Linked DNA regions of Homo sapiens: regions 2, 3 and 4 are each reported to be linked to region 1. The links are microRNA targets in miRTarBase. Many come from high-throughput screens and were not tested one by one. Region 1 holds a microRNA gene; each other region holds the end of a gene's coding sequence.

Region 1 (3,167 bases):
TTGTATCCTATTTATTATTAAATATCTTCTCAATGCCTTTTAAAAAGTCCTCAGGCTCAAAGATCAAAATAAAAAACAAAATAAAAACGATTTTCTAATTATAAGTTTTTCTGGATTACAGTAATAAGATGTTAATTCAAAATAAATATAGTATCACCACTTGTAAAGAAAGTTACCACTTTTAGGATAAAGTTACTTTGAATTTATAAAAACAGGAATAATAAAACATTTTGGAACTTACAGGAAATCCTTTAGTGATAGGAATTTCAATATTAAAGATGAGGATTCGGGCTCTGAAACGAGTGCAAGCTTTAATGGGTACTTTGGGGCCACAAAATATGCAGCCAACACTGTAAGAACAACAAAAAAAGAGGAAAGGTAATTGGGGGACAAATTTACATCAAATAGAAAGACCTCAAAAACATTTACAAGGAAAGTAAAACAATTAAGTAAATTAGGGACTTTTTCTAAATATTCTCTTCTGAGCTAAAGCATGACTTTAAACCATTATTAACCTTATGTCATTTTTATACATTAGAGCTTTCACTCAAAGCACATGCCAAGTATGTGTGCTGACATGTATTAATTCAAATTTTAAGTAAGTTTGCTTACATTTACACAGGTGTCTATTTTTGGTCAAATGAAATTCAAAATTGAACTAGCAGGTTGCAAAATATATGTGTTTAGAGGTGAGGTCCTATATGAAGACAACGGTTGCTTAAACTCATTTTCTCACTCACTTGATTTTGATGATATCCATCCCAACCAAAGTAAGACTAACATGATCGCCTGCTGCCGCCCAGTCGACAGGTTCATCATGCAGAGTGATTCCTGGAAATGAGTAAGAACCAAAGCATACAGTGAAACACCTCGATATCAAACCATAACAACCAACAGAGTTTGGCTGATTTGTGCTTCATCAGTCACTACTCATCATTTTCAATATGAATGGATTGAGAGTAAGAAGTGTAACTGTGAGCGTTGAGGAAAACACACTTCCTCTAGAACTGACTCTTCTAGAATACCACCCTAAACATAAAGTGACTTGTATTTGCCCATAAAAGGCTGACTTCTGCTTATTTAATCAAGATTTTTAAACTAATTGACACAATTGGTATATTCATTAAACAGGCCCCATTCAAATATTTCTATCATATTAATGGATACAGACAAAATAAAACACAGTTCAAATTATTCATAATGACATAAAAGATGGGCTGGAGAAGATGTCTAGCAGTATTTTCTTCTCGAGTTTTGCTTTTAATTAGACAACCACCTAAACAAATAATCCTTGTTTTCCAAGTAACCCATGGGACATGTACACTCAGTCAGAATTTCAAGCGGTCCTCTCAGCAGGCCCCTTAACTACTCCTGGCTCAAAAGAACTTCTTTCCAGAGAGAGATCTGCATACTAATGACTAGTTATATGAAAAGAAAAATATTAAGGAAATAGTGATAAGAAAATTTAATTTTAAAATGATCCTAGGTGTTGCTATATATCTAGAGATATACATCTATTTACCTAGACATAGTCCTGAAGGTAGTCGGAGAGAGCAGTTCCCAAGGGCAATACTCAGCTACCTTACTCAAAGGCTTTTAAAATATATCCCATATTTTCTGATTTTATGGAATACATTTATGGATTAAGTTCCTTTCCATAGAAATGTAGGCCTTTTGACAAAGAGAATGTGTAGGCCAACCACTGTGGATAGTTCTTGATTGACACATTGACATGTTCTTAGTAAATTATAATCCACCCATATCTTTCTGAAAATACTCATTTTCTATGCAGCAGGGAGAGTTTCTGACTTTTAGGGAGCTCAAGGATTTAACTTTAAGAGCTCTGAGACAATCTAGAGTTTCATGCAAAATATCATGTATGTGCACATCTGCATTAATCTGAGAAAAGAAGGCATAACTTTCTTCAGGTATCAGAGATTCTTCCTCCCAAACATGTTAGCAATTATCGTATTAAGGAATGTTTGTTAAATATCAACTTACTAGATTTAATTTTAAAATGTAAATTTAGAATGAACATATCTGAATTTTGCTATGAAATATGGGATTAAAAACAGAAGCTAGGTATTTACACACAATAGAGATTGACTTTGGCTTAAACATTTGTAGATGTTTTATACTACAAGTTCAATTAACAGTATAAAATTTTCCAAAGGTAATTATATTCTCTGGTTCTTCTTCCCCTCAATCATGTTACACTGTTCCACATATGACATTTATCAAAAAACTTTTCTCATTGGACAAACATTACAAAAAGAGGCTCTTTTTTAATACTCTATGAGCTTGATATGTTAATAAAGTAAAAAAAAAAAAGTAATTTAGAATTTCTATTTGTTGGTAGTAGATTCAGTCAAGTCTTTCTTTTGGGACAGTACTGGTTAAAGAGCCACAGTAGTACCTAAAAATGTTTAGACAGAACAGTGCTTTCAAGAATCAAGTAAACCAAGCAAAAGCAGTAAGGTTAGAATGGAGGAAGGAGAACCTCTCTGTTGAGTTAAAAGACTGGCTCTCAAGAAGTAGGGTGGTTCTTCCCTGGGGCTTCTGATAAGACTTACACTGATAAAAGATAATACTTTAGAGTTTCTCTGTGTGGAAAGTACAGAGAAGAGGAGGGTAAAGAATGTGAGACTTTCAGAGATGACTAAGGATTTTAGAGGTTACAAGGGAGCCAACCTCAAGGTCTGTGATAACTTTAGGATCATGGTTTTAATTTATGGCTCTTAATCATAAAAAAATTCTTGTTCTCAAAAAAGATCATTAACATACCAAAAAAATCGTGTTTCAAAAGTATTATAGCTCTTGTCACTTTAAAAAACAAAAGCAGAGACCTGTACTTGCACACAATGAACAGATCTATAGAAAATGACACTATTTTTAAAGTGCATATTACTTTTTATCAAAACTGAAATTTCATGATCTCTAGTGGGCACAAATAAAAAGGTCAAATGGAAATAACTGATTTTCATTCCCTTATTCATCTTTAAATATAGGTTAAACCATGTAACTTCAATAGATATTAATTTCTTAAACTTTTCAAGAAATCTTCTTTTAAAGAGAGCATATGAATTCAAGAAAAATATACATTCAAATTGATAAACTAGTCAGGTACAACTCTAGATATAAACTATAAATTAAGAGTAACAGAGGGA
Region 2 (3,167 bases), not on the chromosome of region 1:
AGGCAATCTTCCCACCTCGGCCTCCCAGAGTGTTGGGATTATAGGGATGTGCCACCATGCACGGCCTGTGCTTCCTCTTATGTGAAATGCTTCGTTATACCTTTGGTGCATTTTTCTATTGGGTTATCTGTGCTTTCTTTATTGATTTGTTGAAGTTCTTCATACATTCTTTGTCTGTTGTTTGTATTAGAAATATGGTGAACATCCTCTCCTGGCCTTTAACTTGTTTTCTCCGTTTCTATATCTTTTAATGAACAAAAGCTCTAATTTCATTATAGTATCTGGCATTTATGTCTCGTTTAAGCAGTCTTTCCCTTGGCCGGGTGTGGTGGCTCACATCTGTAATCCCAGCACTTTGGGAGGCCAAGGTTGGAGGATTGCTTGAGGCCAGGAGTTCAAGACCAGCCTGGGCAACATAGCAAGGCCCCATCTCTCTATAGAAAGAAATAATAATAAAATTTTAAAATAAATCTTTCCCTTAAGGAATCTGAAGGATAATCTGAGTCTGAGGGGAGTGATCACAATTAGGCCCAGGTCAGAGGCCAGTCACAGAGGCAAGCTTGTTTATGCTTACCGAGGCACAGCATAACTGTCTGAGGCAGTCCTGACCAGCCAGCACAAGCGGCCAGCTGGCTGACTGGCAGGTGTGCTCTGGCTATAGAACTGGATATATCATGCTATTAGAGCTGGGTGCTATTAAAAAGTCTAATCATAGACTTTAATTAACTTTCCTTGCTCTGACGCCCGCTCACTAAGCAACCTTCTGATTATAATTTGGCTTCCCATGTATCTTGCCTACAGGGAGAGAATGTACTGCTCAGGCCGACGTGAGGATCCAATCCACTCACCGGTTACATGCCACGATGTAAATTAATAAATTCGCATTCTGATTTTATCATCTGCCTCATCTGAGGTCTGTAGGCGTGAGTCAGCATCCCCTAGTTTAATCAACATGGACACTGAGACTATCAAGCTTTTGAGCTGAAAAGCTAAGAATTAGACCCAGGACCAGAGTGAAATCACCAAGGTAACATTGCCCTGGAGGCCCCTTGGCCTGATGAAGGAGGACTTCTTACATGTCATGCGATACAGACAGGGATTAAAGTCGACTTCTGACATTATAAAGAGTTGCATATTCAAAACTATAGCTTGGTTCCATTCAGGTGAAGGCAAAGAATAGGAGATGATCATGAAACTCACATTGAATATTTATTGGCTTATAAGCACACACCAGATGCTGTACAAATCCTAGGCAGGAGGTTAAGATTTACAGACATGTTTGGTAAAAGCAAAAAAACAAAAACAAAACAACAACAAAAGGACAGATGGTACGTGCTGAGGTGAAATGAAACAAGAGGCAGCTGGTTGATGAATTCTTGCTCTACTTAGGAACTTGTGGTCCAGGATACAAAATAGACAGACACACACACACAAACACACACACACACACACACACACACACACACACACACACAAACCAGGACAAGGAAACACAGGATACACCACAGCACAAATGGGAATGTGCCAGGGCAGTGAGATTATCCAGGCCAGATGAGTGATTTAGGACCTGTAAGATGAGGCCTAGATCTTTGAAGTGAGTTCAAAAGGCAAAGAGGAGGTAAGCCCATTAGGACAGATGGGGATAATTTCACCATCCTGCAATTTAGATGGTCACTTCACCCAGCCTTCCTGGGCACAGTACCTACAGTGACACAGATCCCCTCCCGCCATCCTGGTCACACTGAATAACAAAGGGAAGAGAGGAGTAAGAACTGTAGTATCTAGAAATTCTCAGCACAGTGAAGGAAAGTGATCTTCTACTTTGTATTCAGGCCTAAAAAAGGAGGGGACGGGCCCGGCACAGTGGCTCACACCTGTAATCCCAGCACTCTGGGAGGCCAAGGAGGGCAGATCACCTGAGGTTGGGAGTTTGAGACCAGCCTGACCAACATGGAGAAACCCTGTCTCTACTAAAAACACAAAATTAGCCAGGCATGGTGGCATGCGCCTATAAACCAAGCTACTCAAGAGGCTGAGGCAGGAGAATTGCTTGAACCCAGGAGGCAGAGGTTGTGGTGAGCCAAGATCGAGCCATCACACTCCAGCCTGGGCAACAAGAGCAAAACTCTGTCTCAAAAAAAAAAAAACAGGAGAGGAGGGAGGGAGAGACCTTCACTGATATCCCTACAAGATTTGCTGCTCAAAGGAAAATATTTTCCAGGAAGACTGCGAGAAATTAAAGGAAATTCTACATCATCTTTGAGACCCACCTAAAGACAAGTGGTGTCTCCCACAGTGCCACCAGAGCAAGGTCACTGGCTTGGCTAGATGTGGATGAGGGTAGAGAATCATCTCAGATGTTCTTTGGTTCTAAAAATGAGGTAGAGAGAGACATGCCACCCAGGAAGGGGTGATGCTGAGTGCAGCCGCCCAGCCAGCAGGGTGGAAGGAGAAACAGACAAAAGGCTCATCAAAAACAGCAGGACCAAAATTGAGCAGGCTGGCAGAACCAGTTCTTGCAGGGACACTGCCAGGACACACGACTCCAGGGAGCTGGCTGGAGAGGGGCAGGCCTGTGTGCTCCACAAACCCAGAGGGCTCTGACTCACACAGGTAGGAAAGAGCTCCTTTAACAATGGCCTCAGTGCGTGCACGTGTGGGTACAAATAAATGTAGACAGAGCAGAGCCATCGCCTAGTAGAGGTTGTCCCGCACATGCTCCATGATGGTCTTCAGCCCCAGCCACGTCTCCTCTGCAGTGGGGATGATCTGGTTAGCTGGCAGGAGGAAGCCATAGGTCCCGGTATCTCTCAACTCAAATGTGAATGCAAATTTGATGCCGTTGTCATATGCCCAGTCGATGCTGCTCCCGCTAGCTGGATCTGTAAGTCGGAGGACAAAACACTCTTGAAGCCCAGTTCCCTCCTGGGTTAGATGGGAAGGGGCCAAGAGCTCTGCCTGCCTGGGGTTCCTTAAGGAATCCAGAGTTTGCTCCTCAAGTCATCAGTCCTATGACAAAATCATCAGCCTGATCCCTATGTCTCAGGACATCCTGCATTGGCCTGAGGTGCACACTGGTCTCAAATCAAGAGATCTGAAACCCCTACTCCCACCTTATTACTAACGCTGTGTCCGTCCTGTAAGTCCCTCAAAACCAATCTCTATAG
Region 3 (3,167 bases), not on the chromosome of region 1:
AACACTTTGGGAGGCCGAGGCAGGTGGATCATGAGGTCAGGCGTTCGAGACCAGCCTGGACAACATAGTGAAACCCTGTCTCTACTAAAAATACAAAAAATTAGCTGGGCATCGTGGTGGGTGCCTGTAATCCCAGCTACTCGGGAGGCTGAGGCAGAAGAATCGCTTGAACCTGGGAGGTGGAGGTTGCAGTGAGCTGAGATGGCGCCACTGCACTCCAGCCTGGGCGACAGTGCAAGACTCTGTCTCAAAAATAAAATAAAATAAACTTAGTACTACATAATCTAACACTGAAAATGACAATGTTACTAACATGCCACTTTTACTGGTCAAATTGAAAAAGATTTTAATGTAAGGCAGTACCCAAAGATCTTCACAAAGATTTATGAACAAATGATAATCACTGCAGCCTAGTTAACAGTGACCATTTTCTTACAATTTAAATGTCCAGAAATAATTTGCAGAACACAGAATATGATGGAGCTATCCTCTTAACAGACTTAAGAACAGGAGGAAATGCTAAAAATGTTTAACATAGCATATAAACCAATAAAAATATGACCCCAGTATTTAAAAAGTGTATACAGAAAAGAGACCAGAAGATTTACACAAACTCTTTAATGGTGGTTGGGATCTTGGGTGATTTTAATGTAATTCTTATCCTGTTTCATATTTCTAAAATACACGTGTATATCCCTTTCAACTAAAACACAACACAGTATGGCTCACTCCTGTAATCCTAGAACTTTGGGAGACCGAGATGGTCAGATCACTTGAGCCCAAGAGTTAAGAGAGACCAGCCTGGGCAACATGGCAAAAAATACAAAAATTACCTGGGTGTGGTGGCACATGCCTGTAGTCCAAGGTACTCAGGAGGTGAAGGTGGGAGGATCACCTGAATCCAGGGAGGTCAAGGCTGCAATGAGCTGTGATTGTGCCACTGCACTCCAGCCTAGGTGACAGGGTGAGACCCTATCTTAAAAGAAAGCCCACCATAATTGTTATTTTGAAAACAATTCAGTATTCCTTTTGTTTTATCTATTATTTATTTTTGAGAGAGGGTCTCACTCTGTTGTCCAGGCTGGAGTGCAATGGCATGATCTTGGCTCATTGCAACCTTCACCTCCTGGGCTCAAATGATCCTTGCACCTCAGCCCTCCGAGGAGCTGGGACTACAGTTGCATGCCACCATGCCCAGCTAATTTTTGGTAGAGATGGGGTTTTGCCATGTTGCTCAGGCTAGTTTTCGACTCCTGAGCTCATGCAATCCACTCGCCTCAGTTTCCCAAAGTGCTGGGATTACAGGTATGAGTCACAGTGCCTGGCCCAGTATTCCTTTTGAAGAGAAAATTTTATCTGGGAATCTCTCAAAAACATCAAAGATTGTTTTGCATGAAATTAACTCGAATTAATTTTTGGTAGGGATAAACTGGAAACAAACATTCAGTAGTAGGAGATATATCAAACATCCATAAAAGGGAGTATTTTGCAGCCATAGACAATTGTTTTTAATGACCTAAGAAACTGCTCACAGAGGAAAATACATAAAATTCTATAGAATGATCAAATAGGCTAAAAATAGAAAAAAACGCTAGCAGCAAATAATACCAAAATGTCAACAAGCCTCTCTGGATAAGGGATTACTAATGATTTTTAGTTTCTTTCTACTTTACTCTATTTTCTAAATTTCCAGTAAGTATTTTAACATCAGAAAAGAACCTTAAAATGAAAAAGTTATTTAACACACTATTTTTAAAATTACCCAATACAGTGTCTTGAAAACATGCCAACTTCCAAATATCTCACTGCCCTTCCTGTTTCTTCAACAATGGTGTTCTGAAGCATGGGAGGAAACATGAAGTAGTAAAAGGCAGTTTTTGTACACTTTACTTCAGTTATATATTAGAGATTTTGAAGATCTACTACATAAGCCTACACATTCACATTGTATACTTTTCTGGTGCCAGAACTACTAAGGTAGTGGAAATCAGCCAAGAGATGGTGGTTTTACCACATACTCATAACTGCAGAGGCTTTACAGACTCTTTAAAATCTTTTGTATAATAATTTCGAAGGTAAAATTAGTTTATCTTTCCCAGGTGAAAACAAAGCCTCTGATATCAACTCCACTACAAAGCCATTTGCAGGCAATCAAGACGACTAAAAATACTTCTGGTGATGATGACTGGCAGAGCCTCATTACGAATCAACTAAATAAAAGTGAAAATTTACTAAGTTTAGAAAATGACAACCAGCCAAAGAAAAGAAAAGCAGAAGAGACGTTGGAAAAAAACAACAGATTAAAATAATGTAGATAAGTGCTTTCAGTAGTGAAATTATGTAACTGAAATTCTGGTATAGTTTTTACTAGAATAAAATGACTGTTGTATTTAAAGCTCTACAGTTTGTCTTTGCTTTTCCAAGTTTTTCTAATGTGAAGAAATTGTATTACTCTACTTCTGTCTTCTCTCTGTATATTATCCTTTCTTTAAAGTGCTCATTGCTTCTTCAATATCCTTTTTTAAAGAACAGAATTTATGTATTGTATGACAGACATTGTGACCCCTTGTAATTTATTACTTCATATCCTCTGGAGTTTGTGATTTTAGTATAAATTTGAGACAATAACTGTCCAGACTAGGCAAATTTTTTTAGTTTATAATGTTTTACTATGATTTAGGGCTTTTTTTTCAAAGAACAAAAATTATAAGCATAAAAACTCAGGTATCAGAAAGACTCAAAAGGCTGTTTTTCACTTTGTTCAGATTTTGTTTCCAGGCATTAAGTGTGTCATACAGTTGTTGCCACTGCTGTTTTCCAAATGTCCGATGTGTGCTATGACTAAAAATTGAAAAATTAAACACAGTGTTAGTCAACCTTTTAGCCTCTGGTATTCTTTTATAATACTACAGATTTGAATCCAGTTAAAAGCAAGATTAAATATACCTAATTTAGAATAGTAAGAGAATTTAAGAATTACATAATTATTTAAAAAAAATCTTTACCATATTGATCCTAAGCCTTCTAATTCTCCTGAGCAACTATATAAAGCAGACATAAAAGTCATTAGTATTCTAGCCAATGCTCAGCCATTAAATGAAATGTGCTGGAAAATAGGACTCTTTCATTAAATAAGCTAATCACATTCAGTCTGAACTTTAATAAAA
Region 4 (3,167 bases), not on the chromosome of region 1:
TGGAGGCTGAGACAGAAGAATCGCTTGAACCTGGGAGGTGGAGGTTGCAGTGAGCCAAGATCACGCCACTGTACTCCAGCCTGGGTGACAGAGTGAGACTCCATCTCAAAAAAAAAAAAAAAAAAAAAACACTTTACTGAGTGGCTGCCATGCACCAGATACTGCGCAAGGCTCTGGAGGTTTAGAGATGAATGACATATAGTCAGCCAGGAACTCTCAGCATGGTGGGACTGAGAAACCAGTAAGTAGCCAATTTCAGATCACTGAAATGCTAGCAAATGTAGATAGTCCTCAAGGAGTCTAAAAAAGAAAGTCCAACACTGAGATCAGGAAAGAACCTGGGAGATGATACTTAAGCTGTCTGCTTCTGCAATTTTTGAGGGATTGTCTCACTATTTTGTCACATACTTTTTTTTAGTGCAGAGACACTCCGGCAGGAACTGGAGAGAGAGAAGATGATGAAAAGACTGTTGATGACCGAACTGTGAAATTCTCCCCTTGTCACCTGGAAGATGGCATGGTGCCTTCTGTCCGTCTTCTTTCTTCGGGCTTTGTGTGCTCACTCTAGCACAGCATACAAGTGTGTGCTCTGTTCGCCCAGGTCTCCATGGTTAGTTGAAGCCAATTTCTGGCTTGACTTTTATGGGAAAAGTTATTTTATGTCTCCTAAGCATTAGAGTTTTTCTATTACTCTATGTAGTTGAGACAGGATTTGATAAGTCTAGGAAAAGAAAGATGGGAAAACGGGATTCCTTTTCAGAAGTACCTGTGTGTATCTGTTAATAACCACAGGGGTTAATATGATGTAGGATCTTTTACTATCAATTTCAACCATTTGATTTTGTATGATTGAAACTTGCACCGAGCTTTGACTGTTTGTTAAAGAGTCATTTTTAATGAAAGAATAATTCTTTATTGCTGGTTTTTCATTTACACTGATAAATACACAGATCTTATAAAGTCTTTAACATTCATTTGTATTCAGATGTGAGTAGAAGAACTAAAAAAAGAAAGTTACATATCACTATGACTGAAGGTACTTCAGCTTAATCTGAAATATAATTTAACTTGTGAACTCCTTGGATATGATATTATTTGGAATAAACAGAATTTATCATTGAACCCAAAGTAGGAAATGATAGCTTACATTGTCTAAAAATCCTTACAAGGTTAAGATGATTCAATATCAAGAAGATTCAGAAAATTATTTCTAAAGTTGATCGATTCATGTCGTATTGATAGAATCTTGACCAGAAGAAATTTTGCTCTTTTTATATAGTTTCAAGAAATGTGTTTTTAAATTTTTATTAATGCACTTGAACAACTTTGCAGGAATAAAGCAACCCCCTAACCACAAAATATCCCTCTAAATTAGTTCCCTAGCTTTCTCAATGAATACACACATATTTTTACATAGCTATGATCGTTGTGTACATTCTCCTTTGTTTTACTTCTCGGCCTAACACTTGTCTCCTCTTGTCAACACAGATTCTACTCTCACCAATTTAAATGTCTTTATATCCATGTAACATGGGTAACCTCACTTCACCCCATTATTAGATATTTGAGTTATATCTAATTTTTCACTCTTATAAATAGTGCTGCTATGAATGTCTGTAAAAAAAAAAAACTGCTCCTTCTTTTGGATTATTCCCTTAGGAATATCTCCAAAGAGGGATTACAAGGTCAAAGAGCATGAAGTATTTTATAGCTCTTGTTTTATATTGCCAGATTGCTTTCTAGAAAGATCCAATCTTTGGGTTGGAAGGACCTTAAAGGTCATCTAGTTTAGCCTCCCCACCCCCTCTGAATGCTTGAATCCCCTCGACAATTTATGATGCCACCAGCAATGTATAAGCATTTCTGTTTACCAATAGCTCTGCCAGTATTGGGTTTTGCCATTTTTATTTATTTTTGCTAGTTTAATAGGTATGTATAGTTGTTCTTGAAGAGTTGTTTTATTTCATTAATTGCTAGCAAGGCTGAGCACTTTTCCATGTGATGATTTACTAGTTGTATTTCCTTGTGTGTAAAATGTTCATTCATTTCTTATGACCACTTGTTAAGAGGAACTGATCTCATATATTTGTATCAGAACTGTATTTTTATGTTATATTGTATAGTTTGCTCTCCTGCCCCTCTCCTTAAAACTGAATGGTGCCAATAATTTGATACTAATGACTACAAAAAAAGGTAATGCCTCATTTACTAGTATTGTTGTAAAATGAGGAATGTATGTGAATATTCAGATAACCGAGGATTAACCCTTTAAGTGCTGAATCTTTAAAATTTTAATATATTTTTTTTTGAGGGAAATCTTTCTAAAATGTATTACGCACTTCCCTGCCTTAGTAAACAGAGTATACTGGAGAGTATTTAACCTTTTCTTGATGAGTCATGGTCATGATTATAAACATCAGCCCCTTTTATACCTTGGTACGGTGCAGTGATATCATTAAGAGCTATCAATATGTGTAGGGCTTGGCTTGGCCTTTTATAGGATATTATGCTGTTCTCACTGATGGTTTTTTACTGCTCTCTGCTCTGTCAGTGGAGCTATCCGGGGCAATTGTAGCGTTTGGGTCCTTTTACCCCTATGTCCCCCGGCTATACTTTTAAAACAGCTTTAGCTGTTCTTTATCTTGTGCACATGATACAAAATATGTTCCCGTACAATATGGGGCTGTCACTTCTTGCCAACCCAGCACCCTCTTCCTCTTCTAACCTGCTTTCTGAGGCTTCTGCTCTTCACCTCCTGCTCGCTGATGGAAACCTCCAGGGCAAAGCTGAAGGTTTCTTGGGGAAGCCAGGAAAGCCAGTATTTCCTATGTGTCAGATCTGCTTGGCTTCCAAGAAGGGATGCATGGGCTTTTTGGCCAGTGTTTCCAGGAGGCTCTGGGCTTCCTGCTTCTTCCCCGCTTCCCCCAGAGTTCACAGATGTTGAAGTTTCTGAAGGTTGACGTCACTGGAAGTCTGACCACAAACAAGTTGGCTGTTACTGTATTTGAAACCCAGTACCTTTGGCAGCTCACCTCTAACCAGTAAAATAAGAGGATTCCATGGTTTCAGCAGTTGTCCTGGTTATTTGCCTATTTAAGTGAATGATGGGTGCTTGGCATTGTGACTGAGAAGATGAAATTGTGCTGGATGGATTCATAGGGATGAAA

Evidence for each region. Region 1 holds the annotated microRNA hsa-miR-3662 (GAAAAUGAUGAGUAGUGACUGAUG, at 918-941, opposite strand). A microRNA usually pairs through its seed, bases 2 to 8, with sites in the 3' UTR of a target mRNA and lowers its output. Matches are read on the target gene's strand: a 7mer-m8 pairs with bases 2 to 8, a 7mer-A1 pairs with bases 2 to 7 and ends in A, and an 8mer does both.
Region 2: miRTarBase lists CPA4 as a target of hsa-miR-3662. Seed matches in the 3' UTR shown: 7mer-m8 at 2,374-2,380.
Region 3: miRTarBase lists EIF3M as a target of hsa-miR-3662. Seed matches in the 3' UTR shown: 8mer at 2,374-2,381, 7mer-m8 at 2,242-2,248, 8mer at 1,722-1,729 and 7mer-m8 at 294-300.
Region 4: the mRNA of EPB41L4B is a reported target of hsa-miR-3662. Seed matches in the 3' UTR shown: 7mer-m8 at 888-894.

Annotation. Positions count from the first base shown.
Region 1 is chr6:134,978,438-134,981,604 of GRCh38, forward strand. MIR3662 (microRNA 3662) reads right to left here and starts at 995; the gene lies at 901-995. HBS1L (HBS1 like translational GTPase) reads right to left here. Exons shown (of 18, transcript NM_006620.4): 14 at 741-831; 15 at 242-350.
Region 2 is chr7:130,322,204-130,325,370 of GRCh38, reverse strand. It overlaps CPA4 (carboxypeptidase A4), which reads right to left. Exons shown (of 11, transcript NM_016352.4): 11 at 1,191-2,882. The coding sequence ends at 2,695. The region is part of intron 1 of LOC105375503 (a long non-coding RNA gene); the gene reads left to right. Among named protein-coding and RNA genes, the nearest start is that of CPA5, 21 kb to the left of the region's middle.
Region 3 is chr11:32,601,953-32,605,119 of GRCh38, reverse strand. EIF3M (eukaryotic translation initiation factor 3 subunit M) reads right to left here. Exons shown (of 11, transcript NM_006360.6): 11 at 1-2,841. The coding sequence ends at 2,721. It overlaps CCDC73 (coiled-coil domain containing 73), which reads left to right. Exons shown (of 18, transcript NM_001008391.4): 18 at 2,100-2,399. The coding sequence ends at 2,309. Among named protein-coding and RNA genes, the nearest start is that of EIF3M, 20 kb to the right of the region's middle.
Region 4 is chr9:109,171,875-109,175,041 of GRCh38, reverse strand. It overlaps EPB41L4B (erythrocyte membrane protein band 4.1 like 4B), which reads left to right. Exons shown (of 26, transcript NM_019114.5): 26 at 419-3,068. The coding sequence ends at 488. Among named protein-coding and RNA genes, the nearest start is that of FRRS1L, 6.2 kb to the right of the region's middle.